Linked DNA regions of Homo sapiens. The protein of the gene in region 2 purifies or fractionates together with the protein of the main gene of each other region. This does not show direct contact. Each region holds a gene or a part of one and is shown on either strand. Other genes may lie near its edges. The genes, in order: MTCL2, ZNF169 and CLTCL1.

Region 1 (3,746 bases), on a different chromosome or scaffold from region 2:
TATTGCTTCTGGATTTTAAACATCTTATTTTTTTGAGGTGGAGTCTTGCTATGTTGCCTAGGCTAGTCTCAAACTCCTCAATGCAAGCAATCCTCTCACCTCAGCCTCCCAAAGTACTGGGATTACAGGCATGAGCCACTATGCCAGACCAGCTTCTGGATTTTTGAATCACTGTTTGCCATCAGTCTCTTATGACCATTTCTAAGCCTCATGTGTAATTACGATTTGTTATATTCATTTTATTGTTGTTGTTTGTTCTTTGAGACAGGGTCTTGCTATGTTGGCCAGGCTGGTCTCAAACTCTTGGCCTCAGGCAATCCTCCTGTCTTGGCCTCCCAAAGTGTTGGGATTACAGGCATGAACTACCACATCCAGCCTCCATATTCATTTTATCCATTAGTATTCATTCTGAATTACAGTTCCCACTAGATGTCAGTTTCATGAAGACAGGATTTTCTCTGAGATGGAGATTTGCATGCAGAGGTTTATGGAAGAGTCTCCTTGGGAACAACACCACAGGGAGTGAGGCAGAGCTGGAAGCTGAATTACACCAGTGATCTCAGGCGATCCCATGGGGAGCTCTGGAGCTAGGATGGCCCTCCCTGTAGAGCTGAGGCAAGGGGTCATGGACCCATCCCTGGATGTGGGCTCCATCCACGGATAGCACCTGCCCTTGGACAAGGTGGTTCTCCTCAACCAATGGCTGTCGCTGGGAGAGGTACTCAGCTTTGAGGTCTCAGCTCTGGGAATGAGTGTCTCAGTTCCGAAGGGGAATCTGGGCAAAGCACCACAACATCCTCCCTGGTTCACTGCTGTGTTCTCTACACCTACCTACCTGGCGCTTGATAGGTGCTCAGGAAATCCTTTGATGAAAGACAAATGAGAACAGAAACACAGCTTTCCAAGTCTTCGCCGAGGCCAACTGGGTCACACATGGGAGCAGGCTGGAGGGGAGGAGCCCTGAGCAGGTGTTTTTAGAATCATCTTCTCCAATGCTTCTGGCCTATCTCCCATTGCTGCTCACTGGGTGATCTGGAGGGCTCCTCTTACTCAACAGTCAGTGCCATCAGGGTGGGGTGGCCTGGGGACTGGGGCCCTCCCTGGACCCTGGGCACTGTGACAGCTCTCTGCATGTGCATCATTCTGTGAGCTTTCAGTCCTGACTTTTTTTTTTTTTTTTAATTAAATCTCACTTCAGCATTCCTTGAAGAAAAGAGGAACCCGCTCCCTGGGGAAGGCCGATAAGAAGACTTTGGTGCAGGTAATTCCCAGCAGCCCCCGTAGGAAGGTTTTATTCTGAAGACCTGAGCCTGACTCTAAGTGGCCTGGGGATCCCAGATTCTGCCCTGTCCTCCCCTTGCTCATTTTCCTTTTTTTCTTTTCTTTTTTTTTTTTTTTTTTGAGACGGAGTCACACTCTCTTGCCCAGGCTGCAGTGCAGTGGCACAATCTCAGCTCACTGCAACCTCTACCTCCCAGGTTCAAGCAATTTTCATGCCTCAGCCTCCCGAGTAGCTGGGACTACAGGCGTGCACCACCACACCTGGCTAATTTTTGTATTTTTAGTAGAGACAGGGTTTCACCGTGTTGACCAGGCTGGTCTTGAACTCCTGGCCTCAAGCAATCCACCTGCCTCGGCCTCCCAAAGTTCTGGGATTACAGGTGTGAGCCACTGCGCCCGGCCCCCTTGCTCATTTTCTTAGTTTCACTGCCCACTTTATTTCCCAAAACCACATCCTGAGCCCATGGTTCTTAGATGCTTAGATGCTCGCTCCCCACCCCAGCCAGGAACTTAGCAAGCAGCACTACAGTCAAATCCAAAGGTCTAGAGTTGGAGACCCAGGCTTGAATCTTGGCTCTGCCACTTGACTGCCATGTGATTGGAGCGAGTCATTTTGAGTTTCTGGGCTCCATTTCCTATCTATCCCTGTCTTGGGGGTTCATTGGAAGAATTGGATGAAGTACTATATGCAGCAAAGGCCACATACCGTTAGCTCCTAGTGGTATGGGATTGTCAGAGTGCCAGGCCCTTTTCATCCTTAGCTCATTTAATCCCGTCTGTGGCTCTGGGAGGGAGGTAATGTTACCGCCCCATTTTACTGATGAAACTGTAGTGGCAGCAGTTGCTCATCAGTATGTCACCTGTTCCTGTACTCCCAGGCTATGTGTGGCGCCCCATCCTTGCTGTCATTTCAACATCTACCCCTCTGCGTCTCCCCCGGACCCTTAGCTCCTTGAGGGTCTGGCTGTGTCTGATTCATCCCTGTGTTCCCAGCACATAGTGCTCCCCAAAATGCCATGGCTGGTACTGAGACTCCCAGCACTAACCTTCCTGGGTTGTGTCTGTCTCTGTGGTCCCAGGAGGACAGTGCAGACCTGAAGTGCCAGTTGCACTTTGCAAAGGAGGAGTCAGCCCTCATGTGCAAGAAGCTCACTAAGCTTGCCAAGGAGAATGACAGCATGAAGGAGGAGCTGCTGAAGTACCGCTCGCTCTATGGGGACCTGGACAGCGCGCTGTCAGCCGAGGAGCTGGCCGATGCCCCCCACTCGCGGGAGACCGAGCTGAAGGTGCACCTGAAGCTGGTGGAGGAGGAAGCCAACCTGCTGAGCCGCCGCATCGTGGAGCTGGAGGTGGAGAACCGAGGCCTGCGGGCTGAGATGGACGACATGAAGGATCATGGAGGTGGCTGTGGGGGTCCTGAGGCACGCCTGGCCTTCTCCGCGCTGGGTGGCGGAGAGTGCGGGGAGAGCTTGGCAGAGCTGCGGCGACACCTGCAGTTTGTCGAAGAGGAGGCCGAGCTGCTGCGGCGCTCCTCTGCCGAGCTCGAGGACCAGAACAAGCTGCTGCTGAACGAGCTGGCCAAGTTCCGCTCGGAGCACGAGCTGGACGTGGCGCTGTCGGAGGACAGTTGTTCTGTGCTCAGCGAACCTTCACAGGAGGAGCTGGCGGCCGCCAAGCTGCAGATCGGCGAGCTCAGCGGCAAGGTCAAGAAGCTGCAGTACGAGAACCGCGTGCTCCTCTCCAACCTCCAGCGCTGTGACCTCGCCTCCTGCCAGAGTACGCGGCCCATGCTGGAGACGGACGCCGAGGCCGGGGACTCTGCCCAGTGTGTGCCTGCTCCCCTGGGCGAGACACACGAGTCCCATGCGGTCCGACTCTGCAGAGCCAGGGAGGCCGAGGTGCTGCCTGGGCTGAGAGAGCAGGCCGCCCTGGTCAGTAAGGCCATCGATGTCCTGGTGGCTGATGCCAATGGCTTCACGGCTGGCCTCCGGCTGTGTCTGGACAACGAGTGTGCTGACTTCCGGCTGCATGAGGCCCCCGACAACAGCGAGGGCCCCAGGGACACCAAGCTCATCCATGCCATCCTGGTGCGCCTGAGCGTGCTGCAGCAGGAGCTGAATGCCTTCACGCGGAAGGCAGATGCAGTCCTCGGGTGCTCTGTCAAGGAACAGCAGGAGTCCTTCTCATCACTGCCCCCCTTGGGCTCCCAGGGGCTCTCTAAGGAGATTCTTCTGGCAAAAGACCTTGGCTCAGACTTTCAGGTAAGGTGCCTCATGCACAGATCCTATTATTTATTTTTTTCCTTTGTTTTGTTTTGTTTTTCTTGAGATAGGGTCTCTCCCCGCTGGCCAGGCTGAAGTGCAGTGGTGCAATCTCAGTTCACTGCAGCCTCGATATCCTGGGCTCTAGCCATTCTCCCCCCCTCACTCTCCTGAGTACCTGGGACTACAAGTGAGCACCACCAC
Region 2 (3,746 bases):
AGTTCAAGACCAGCCTGACCAACATGGTGAAACCCCGTCTCGAGCGGGGTGCGGTGGCTCACGCCTGAAATCCCAGCACTTTGGGAGGCCGAGGCGGGCGGATCACGAGGTCGGGAGATCGAGACCATCCTAGCCAACATGGTAAAAACACAAAAATTAGCCAGGTGTGGTAGCGCGTGCCTGTAGTCCCAGCTACTCGGGAGGCTGAGGCAGGAGAATACCTTGAACCCGGGAGGCGGAGTTTGCAGTGAGCCGAGATCGCGCCGCGCCACCCCACTGCACTCCAGCCTGGCGACAGAGCAAGACTCCCTCTCAAAACAAACAAACAAACAAACAAACAAAAAACAAACCCCGTCTCTACTAAAAATACAAAAAAAATTAGCCGGGCGTGGTGGCGGGCGCCTGTGGTACCAGCTACTCAGGAGCCTGAGGCAGAGAATTGCTTGAACCCGGGAGGCCGTGGTTGCAGTGAGCTGAGATCACTCCACTGCACTCCAGCCTGGGCGACAGAGTGAGACTTCATCTCAAAAAAAAAAAAAAAAAAAAAAAAAATGTAGGTTTGGATGCCTTCCACCCAACTTCTTCCCCCACCTCCAGGAATTCAAGGAGTCACTCAACAGCCCCCTGAGGCTTGAGAAAAATGTTCCTTGGCCCTATGGGCACCATTCTGCTTGTTGCAACCCATGCTCCCGGAAGGGTCCCCAAGTCCGAGGGAGCCACACAGCTGCAGAAGCCGACAATCTGGATACAAGCACGCCCCCATGCAACCCACAACCCAGGGATGTCTAACTCCAGGCAAGCCCTTCTCAACTCACCAACTTGGGTCCCCAGGCCCCAAGGCTACTGACCCGAGTCGCACGGCCCTAGCCGTCCCCCCCCCCACTATCAAGACCAAGTCTGGATGTCTACCCACAAACAATCCTCCCCCACAAACCCGGGTCCTAGTGGCCAAGCTGCACCATCACCACCACAGTGCACCAGCCATCCACAAGAGCCCTAATAACTGGACTGAGGTTGGGCACGGTGGCTCACGCCTGTAATCCCAGTACTTTGGGAGGCCGAGGCGGGGGGATTACTTGAGGTCAGGAGTTCGAGACCAGCCTTGCCAACATGGTGAAACCCCGTCTCTACTAAAACACAAAATATTAGCCGGGCGTGGTGGCGTGCGCCTGTAGTCCCAGCTACTCGGGAGCCTGAGGCAGGGGAATCACGCCACTGCACTCCAGCCTGGGCGACAAGAGCGAAACTCTGTCTCAAAAAAACAAAACAAAACAAAAACCAAAAAATTAGCCGGGCGTGGTGGCGGGTGCCTGTAATCCCAGCTGCTCGGGAGGCTGACGCGGGAGCATGGCTTGAACCCGGCGGCTGGGGTGGGGCGCGGAGATTGCAGTGAACCGAGATTGCGCCACTGCACTCCAGCCTGGGCGACAGAGAGAGACTCTGTTTCAAAAATAAATAAATAAATAAATAAAATTTAATAAATAAACAAATAAACAACCCGACTGATGCCCAAGCCGCGTGCCTCCCACTAATGGGGAAGTTTGCTCCAACCGAGGATATCATGTCCTCCAAAGGCACATTTGCTGGCCCAGAGACCTCCGAGGCGCGATGGTGGGGAGGGGATGGCGGGATACTAGTGGCAGGATGCTGTCTGGGTACCCCAGGCAGAGCCCACTCAGCGGCCCCCGAAGTACCGGGGACGCACCTGCGAAGTAGCTCGGGAAGTCGGTCCCAGGCCTGCACTGGCCCCTCCAGGTCAACATACTGGGCCCAAAGTCCCGCCAGAAGCACGCGACAACGCCAACGCCCCCTCCCCACCAGAGGACCTCCGCCAAGACCTCTCTCCGGGGTGGACCACGCACGCCCAGACCCCACAGCCGAAACTCAAAACACCAAGGAACATGTGGCCACGACATGGACTGCCCATGCCAGCTTTCCCGACCTTCCTTCCAGTGGAAGGCCCGCGAAAGCGGGGACCACCTCCGGGCTAGCTCACCAGAACTGTGAAAGGACACTCACCACGCACCAGGCGACGATGCCGGAACGCGGAAGTACGCGAGCCGGACTGCCCCTGGGCACGGAACTACACTACCCAGACTGCCACGGGGCGCGCAACTACCCTACCGTGGATGCCCTGGAGCGAGGGACTACAACATCCAGAATGCTGCGAGGGGCGGGACCGCAGCATCCAGGAGAAATTGTGAAAAATCAGAAAGTAAAATCTAACTTTCGGGTCTATGAGAAGGGTGGTCAGGTGAGCAGTAAGTCTTCTTTAACTTTTTATACGGTCCTTCTAATTTTTTTTTTTTTTAAAAAGATGTTACATGTCCTCCATCCTGCAAATTCACACCTGTGATTGTACACCCCTGAACTTTATCTACTTACTTATTTTTTGAGAAGGGGTCTTGCTCTGTCGGCCAGGCTGCAGTACAATGGTGTGATCATAGCTCACTGCAGCCTCAAACCCCTGGCCAAGCAATCCTCTCACCTCAACTTTCTGAGTAGCTGGGAATACAGGTGCATAGCACCACACCGGGCTAATTTTTTGTTTTGTTTTTTAGAATCTGGGTCTCGCGGCCGGGCGCGGTGGCTCACGCCTGTAATCCCAGCACTTTGGGAGGCTGAGGCGGGCGGATCAGAGGTCAGGAGTTCGAGAGCAGCCTGGCCAATGTGGTAAAATCCCGTCTCTACTAAAAATACAAAAATTACCTGGGCGTCGTGATGGGCGCCTGTAGTCCCGGCTACTCAGGAGGGTGAGGCAGGAGAATCACTTTGAACTCGGGAGGTGGAGGTTGCAGTGAGCCAAGATCGCACCACTGTACTCCAGCCTGGACAACAGAGTGAGATTCCTTCTCAAGGGGGAAAAAAAAAAAAAAGAATCTGGGTCTCGCTATGTTGACCAGGCTGGTCTGGAACTCCTGGCCTCAAGCAATTTTCCCACTTCAGGCTCCCAAAGTGCTGGGATTACAGGCGTGAGCCGTCCTTGTGGCCCAGGCTGCCTTTCGAGTTTATTTAGGGCCCTCTAGCCAGAGGTGGTGAGATTGGCAGTAACTCAAATTCCAACTGCTGGGATAGGTGATTCTCCTCGGGCTAAGGCTGGTGTAAATACTCCCTCCATGCGTGAGAATCAGCTGTGTTTGATCCAGTTTTGCTTTCTGGTATAACAGGGCAGCACTGAGTTCAATGCAATGTCTCATCATTGCTGTGCTTGCCGTCTCCCAAGAACATAGATTCTCTCTCCGCACCACAGAGCCACTGCTGGGGGATGGGTCAGGGGCATTGGTGATTCAAGACTGTCTTTCCTACCTTTTCAGTGCCTCTTTCAGTCATATGAAGTAAAAACCAGGTACTGCGAGTGCTTACCTGATTTTTGGTTCTTGTGAAGGTGCTTTTGTGTGTAAATAGTTGTTAACTTGTTTTTCTTACAAGGGGGAATGATCAGTGGAGCCTTCCATTCCACCATCTTGCTCCACCTCCCACCCCCATGTTTTAAATGACAGTGTGTATGAATGTACTTCTAAAAATGCCAAAAATACTGGGGTTTTTTTTCCTGTTATAAAGAAGAAGATTCTGAAGTTTTTTTTTTAATTCCAATTGATTACAAGAAGATAAGGAAAAACTAAACTTGAGGACATTTAACACTATAGCAATTAAAGTTATCTTACTAATGCAAAGATTGTTTATTAGATGTAACAGAATAATACGCTCAAAAACATACCAAAGTCTTTGCAAAATGAGTTATACTC
Region 3 (3,746 bases), on a different chromosome or scaffold from region 2:
CAGTGTTGCAAACACAAGTTATTGTTAGAAGCCTCCTACGACGTGGACAGTTTGGGCAAAACCCTGAAAGGGCTCCTGTTTAGCACTGCGCTGTGTCCCACCAAAATTCACCTGCTGATGTCCTAACCCCTAGTGGGATTCTACTTGGAAAGAGGGTGTTTAAGAAGGTAATCAATGTCAAGGGTGGGGCCCTAATGTAATGGGACTAGTGTCCTTCTAAGAAGAGGAAGAGACACCAGGAGTGCACATGCACAGAGGAAAGGCCCTGTGAGGGCACAGCCAGGAGGCTGTCTGCAAGCGTGGGAGACAGCCTTCACCAGAAACCAGCCCTGCCGACACCCTGATCATGGACTTCCAGCTTCCAAAACTGTGAGAAATAAATGTGTGTTGTTTCAGCTGCCTGGACTGTGGTCTTCTACTCTGGCAGTCTGAGCACACGAACCCACCACCCTTCAAAATGATAGTCTCTGAAATGTCAGGTGTTACAGGCAGCCTCTGAGGGGAAGACTGCCACTGACTGGGGCCCAGAGGCAGCCGGGTGTCACTCCAGGGAGCCAGCAGTACCTTCTGCACGTAGATCTCAATGTACCTCTGCAGGTTGTTGCGGTATAAATATAGGACAAGGTCATGGACAAAGCCAAAACGATCACACACGATGATGAGGGGAAGCTGGTCTGTGAGCTTGGCCTCCTGAGGATTAGAATGCACAGAACAAGTCAGGGAGTGGAGAAACCAGACAGCCAGACCTCGGACTCATTGCACACATGGGACGGCTCTGTCTCTGCAGCAGAGTGACACACAGGAGACTCAGAATGAGACTGCTCTAAATAGGCTGTCGTTTTGTGGTATGGCATTTGCTTTGGGAAATAAGTGAGAGAAAGATATTAGTATTTGGTTAAAGACTGCTACATTTGGCATTAACATTCCAAATCTGGACAAAAATATCTTTTAAGACAAGCAGCTCATTATGTGCAAACCCAACAGAAACCAGGCCATTCTCAAGAACAGCACACCTGCGGTAAGGGCTGCCTTTTCAGACACGCAGCCGCAGGCCATGGAAACACACCCGGCCACCATTCCCAGATGATGATGGCACTTGGGTAGGACAGCCACAGGCCACCACAATCATGCCTCCCCTCATGTGGTCCCGTGCCTAGATCACATTTTGAAGTTTTAAGTGTGGCCACATGACCTCATTTCCTCCAATGGAACGTGAATCCAAGTGTCATCTGCCACTTGCAGGCCTCGCCCATAAAAACCACCTATGCTGGTTCCTCTGTGCTCTTCCCTTCCTCTAGCTGACTGGGAAGACGACATCCAGGTGAGGTGCTGAACACGGCAAAGCAGCCATGAAGCTGGTCCTTGAAGTACAGTGGGAAGGAAAGTCACCCCACTGACCTCCAGCCTACCCTGGACTGCCACATAAGGAAGTAGGCTTCCTGTTCTTTATGACACTAGTGCTGAGTGGTCTACTTGTTTCTGCAGCTTTGCCTGCCTAATTGACAATGGCACTAATGGGATGTTGATGAATTACAATGCAGCAATAAGTGCCAGATACTTAGAGCACAGCCTCAAGCTGCTTTCCACACTCTTAAAACGATAGAAGGGTTACTTTAGAACTTTAAGCCATAAAGTGGAGCTCTGTCCCTGGGACTAAGGGGTCCCTGGCGAGACAGATCCAGCTTCCTGCCCCTGGGACGTCCTGCGGATGGTCTGCCCCACCTGCCATCAGCAAGGGCAGCTCATGGAAGGAGGCAGCACTGGAACACACCTTCAGGAAGTTCTTCACACGCTCTGGGTTGTAGCAGCTGCTCTCTCGGCATATCCTCTCCACCTCCTTGATCTGCCCTGTCTTACAGGCAGCCTGAATGTATTTCAGATGCACATCTGGGTCTTGGCTGAAGTTCACGATTGAGCCCAGGAAGTAGAAGAGGCCTATGAAGAGAGACCATTCCATTTTTGTCCTTGTAACACCTGCCTGTCTCCTCCGTAGCTGCTGCCCACCTTCCCTCGATGACCCTGCTCCACTCTCCAGGGACCCACAGCACACTCAGAACTCATAATCAATATGCCATTTGTCTGTTTTGGCAGCTCCCAAAAATAGCTAGTCGGATTTCCATTATATTTGGCAGGTATACCTGGCATGTTTTGATGTAAAATACTAGATATTTGGTACAAGTGAAATTCCTTTTGTGGGCCCAGGTATACCTAGATAGTCGTCATCAAGAGTAATTCCCACTGAGGTAATCTGAAATGGTGGTGGGACTGCTTCTCTAAAAAGACACATCAAGGGACAGAGAAATAAGCCATGGCCTCCAGGAGGAGGCCTGCAACTCAACACAGAGCTGACAGTGACATGGGCACCACATGCTGAGCCCCAGGGTGAGCCCCAGAGGACAGCATTCACAGAGGCTAATGATGTTCCTCATCATTACAGAGGCCAGCCAGGAGGCACCAGTAACAACAGGGTACGACACATCTGAGAAGGCCCCTCCCTGTCGAGGTCTTTCACTGTAACTGTGAGACCCTGATGCTAGGAAGGGAATGGGCAGCCCCTGGGCTGACGGTTCTCCACCAACCTACTCTACTGCCCTCTCCCAGCCCAGCTCCACTCAATCGTCTGCCATGGTCTTTCCTACAGGGGTGTCTTCTAAAGAGAAGGCCAGTTCCCTGAGGACAGGGTCATGTCCCACCCTCCACCGATGCCCCAACCTCACTGGACACATGGCAGTGGCTTGATGCCTAGACAAATGCTTAGTCTCTATCCTGGGTGGGCCAGACAGCCCCCATCTGTCCCTAACAAAGCCACTCCCATCCCAACTGCCCTAGAACACTTTTTTGGTGTGATGTCCAAGAAGGGGAAAGGAAGACAACCAGGTTACCTTGTCAGCCCCCCACAATCAACTGGGTAGCAGACACCACAAAGCAATGCACCCTCTATCGTGGGCTCTCATTTAGGAGAGGCCCAAAGAGCCTCCCTCCTGGGGCTGTAAAGACCAGACATCAGGCCCTTTCACTGTACCCACGACACAGGCTTTTAGATGAATTCTTGCCAGACTGTGCTGCGTAGACACACCGGGCTCCATAAGTTTCTCCATCCCATCACCAACCAACCTGATTTCTTCCTTTGGAAATACCAAAAAGGTTACTGAAGCTGAGGGTGCACATGAGATGGCAGTAGCATTCTGCCACCGACTGAGCACCCAAGGCAGCCAGTGCTGCATCCTGCCTGGCTTTGCAGGAAGGCCGTCTTAAGGCGGGCAGGTAGGCAGCAACACCTGAGAAAGGAGGTGTAGTCACATGGTGGGGTCGGCGAGAGGCTGCATGGTTTACCTTTGTAACTCTTGAAGGATTCAAAGAGCTCCACCAGGGCCTGCGTGCCCAGCTGCTCGTGGTACTTAGAGGCCACCTGCACACACAGCTGAAGGTTCTGTCTGATGTTAGCAGACAGCATGGCATGCAGACACTCCACAGAATCCTCCACCGATAAGGAGCCAAAGAAATTGACAAGCCACTGGGAACAAGGAAGAGTCTGTCCACAACGATGCACCACTCTAAAGATTGCTAACACTTGGAAAATAACTAGGTCATTCTCCTGTTCCCCTGAGTGTCAAAAATACAGAGAATTTCCACATAAAGGGGTTGAAAAGCAACTATCCATCACGGGAAAAAGTAGGAGCAAGGAGTAAAGCTGGGAAAAGACACTGATCTAAACTGTTCACCTGGAATATTCCACAGATGATGCT

Evidence for each region.
Region 1: the proteins of ZNF169 (region 2) and MTCL2 purify together in Homo sapiens (affinity purification with mass spectrometry; 2 studies listed by BioGRID and IntAct, with this or other methods). This does not show direct contact.
Region 3: the proteins of ZNF169 (region 2) and CLTCL1 purify together in Homo sapiens (affinity purification with mass spectrometry; 2 studies listed by BioGRID and IntAct, with this or other methods). This does not show direct contact.

What each region holds. Positions count from the first base shown.
Region 1 is NC_000020.11:36,814,922-36,818,667, reverse strand, and holds part of MTCL2 (microtubule cross-linking factor 2), read left to right. Parts: intron 1-1,198; coding exon 1,199-1,261; intron 1,262-2,360; coding exon 2,361-3,542; intron 3,543-3,746. UniProt on the Homo sapiens protein: Microtubule-associated factor that enables integration of the centrosomal and Golgi-associated microtubules on the Golgi membrane, supporting directional migration. Preferentially acts on the perinuclear microtubules accumulated around the Golgi.
Region 2 is NC_000009.12:94,257,619-94,261,364, reverse strand, and holds the start of ZNF169 (zinc finger protein 169), read right to left. Parts: upstream 2,068-3,746; 5' UTR 2,020-2,067; intron 1-2,019. UniProt on the Homo sapiens protein: May be involved in transcriptional regulation.
Region 3 is NC_000022.11:19,222,120-19,225,865, forward strand, and holds part of CLTCL1 (clathrin heavy chain 2), read right to left. Parts: intron 3,515-3,746; coding exon 3,334-3,514; intron 1,936-3,333; coding exon 1,772-1,935; intron 691-1,771; coding exon 565-690; intron 1-564. UniProt on the Homo sapiens protein: Clathrin is the major protein of the polyhedral coat of coated pits and vesicles. Two different adapter protein complexes link the clathrin lattice either to the plasma membrane or to the trans-Golgi network.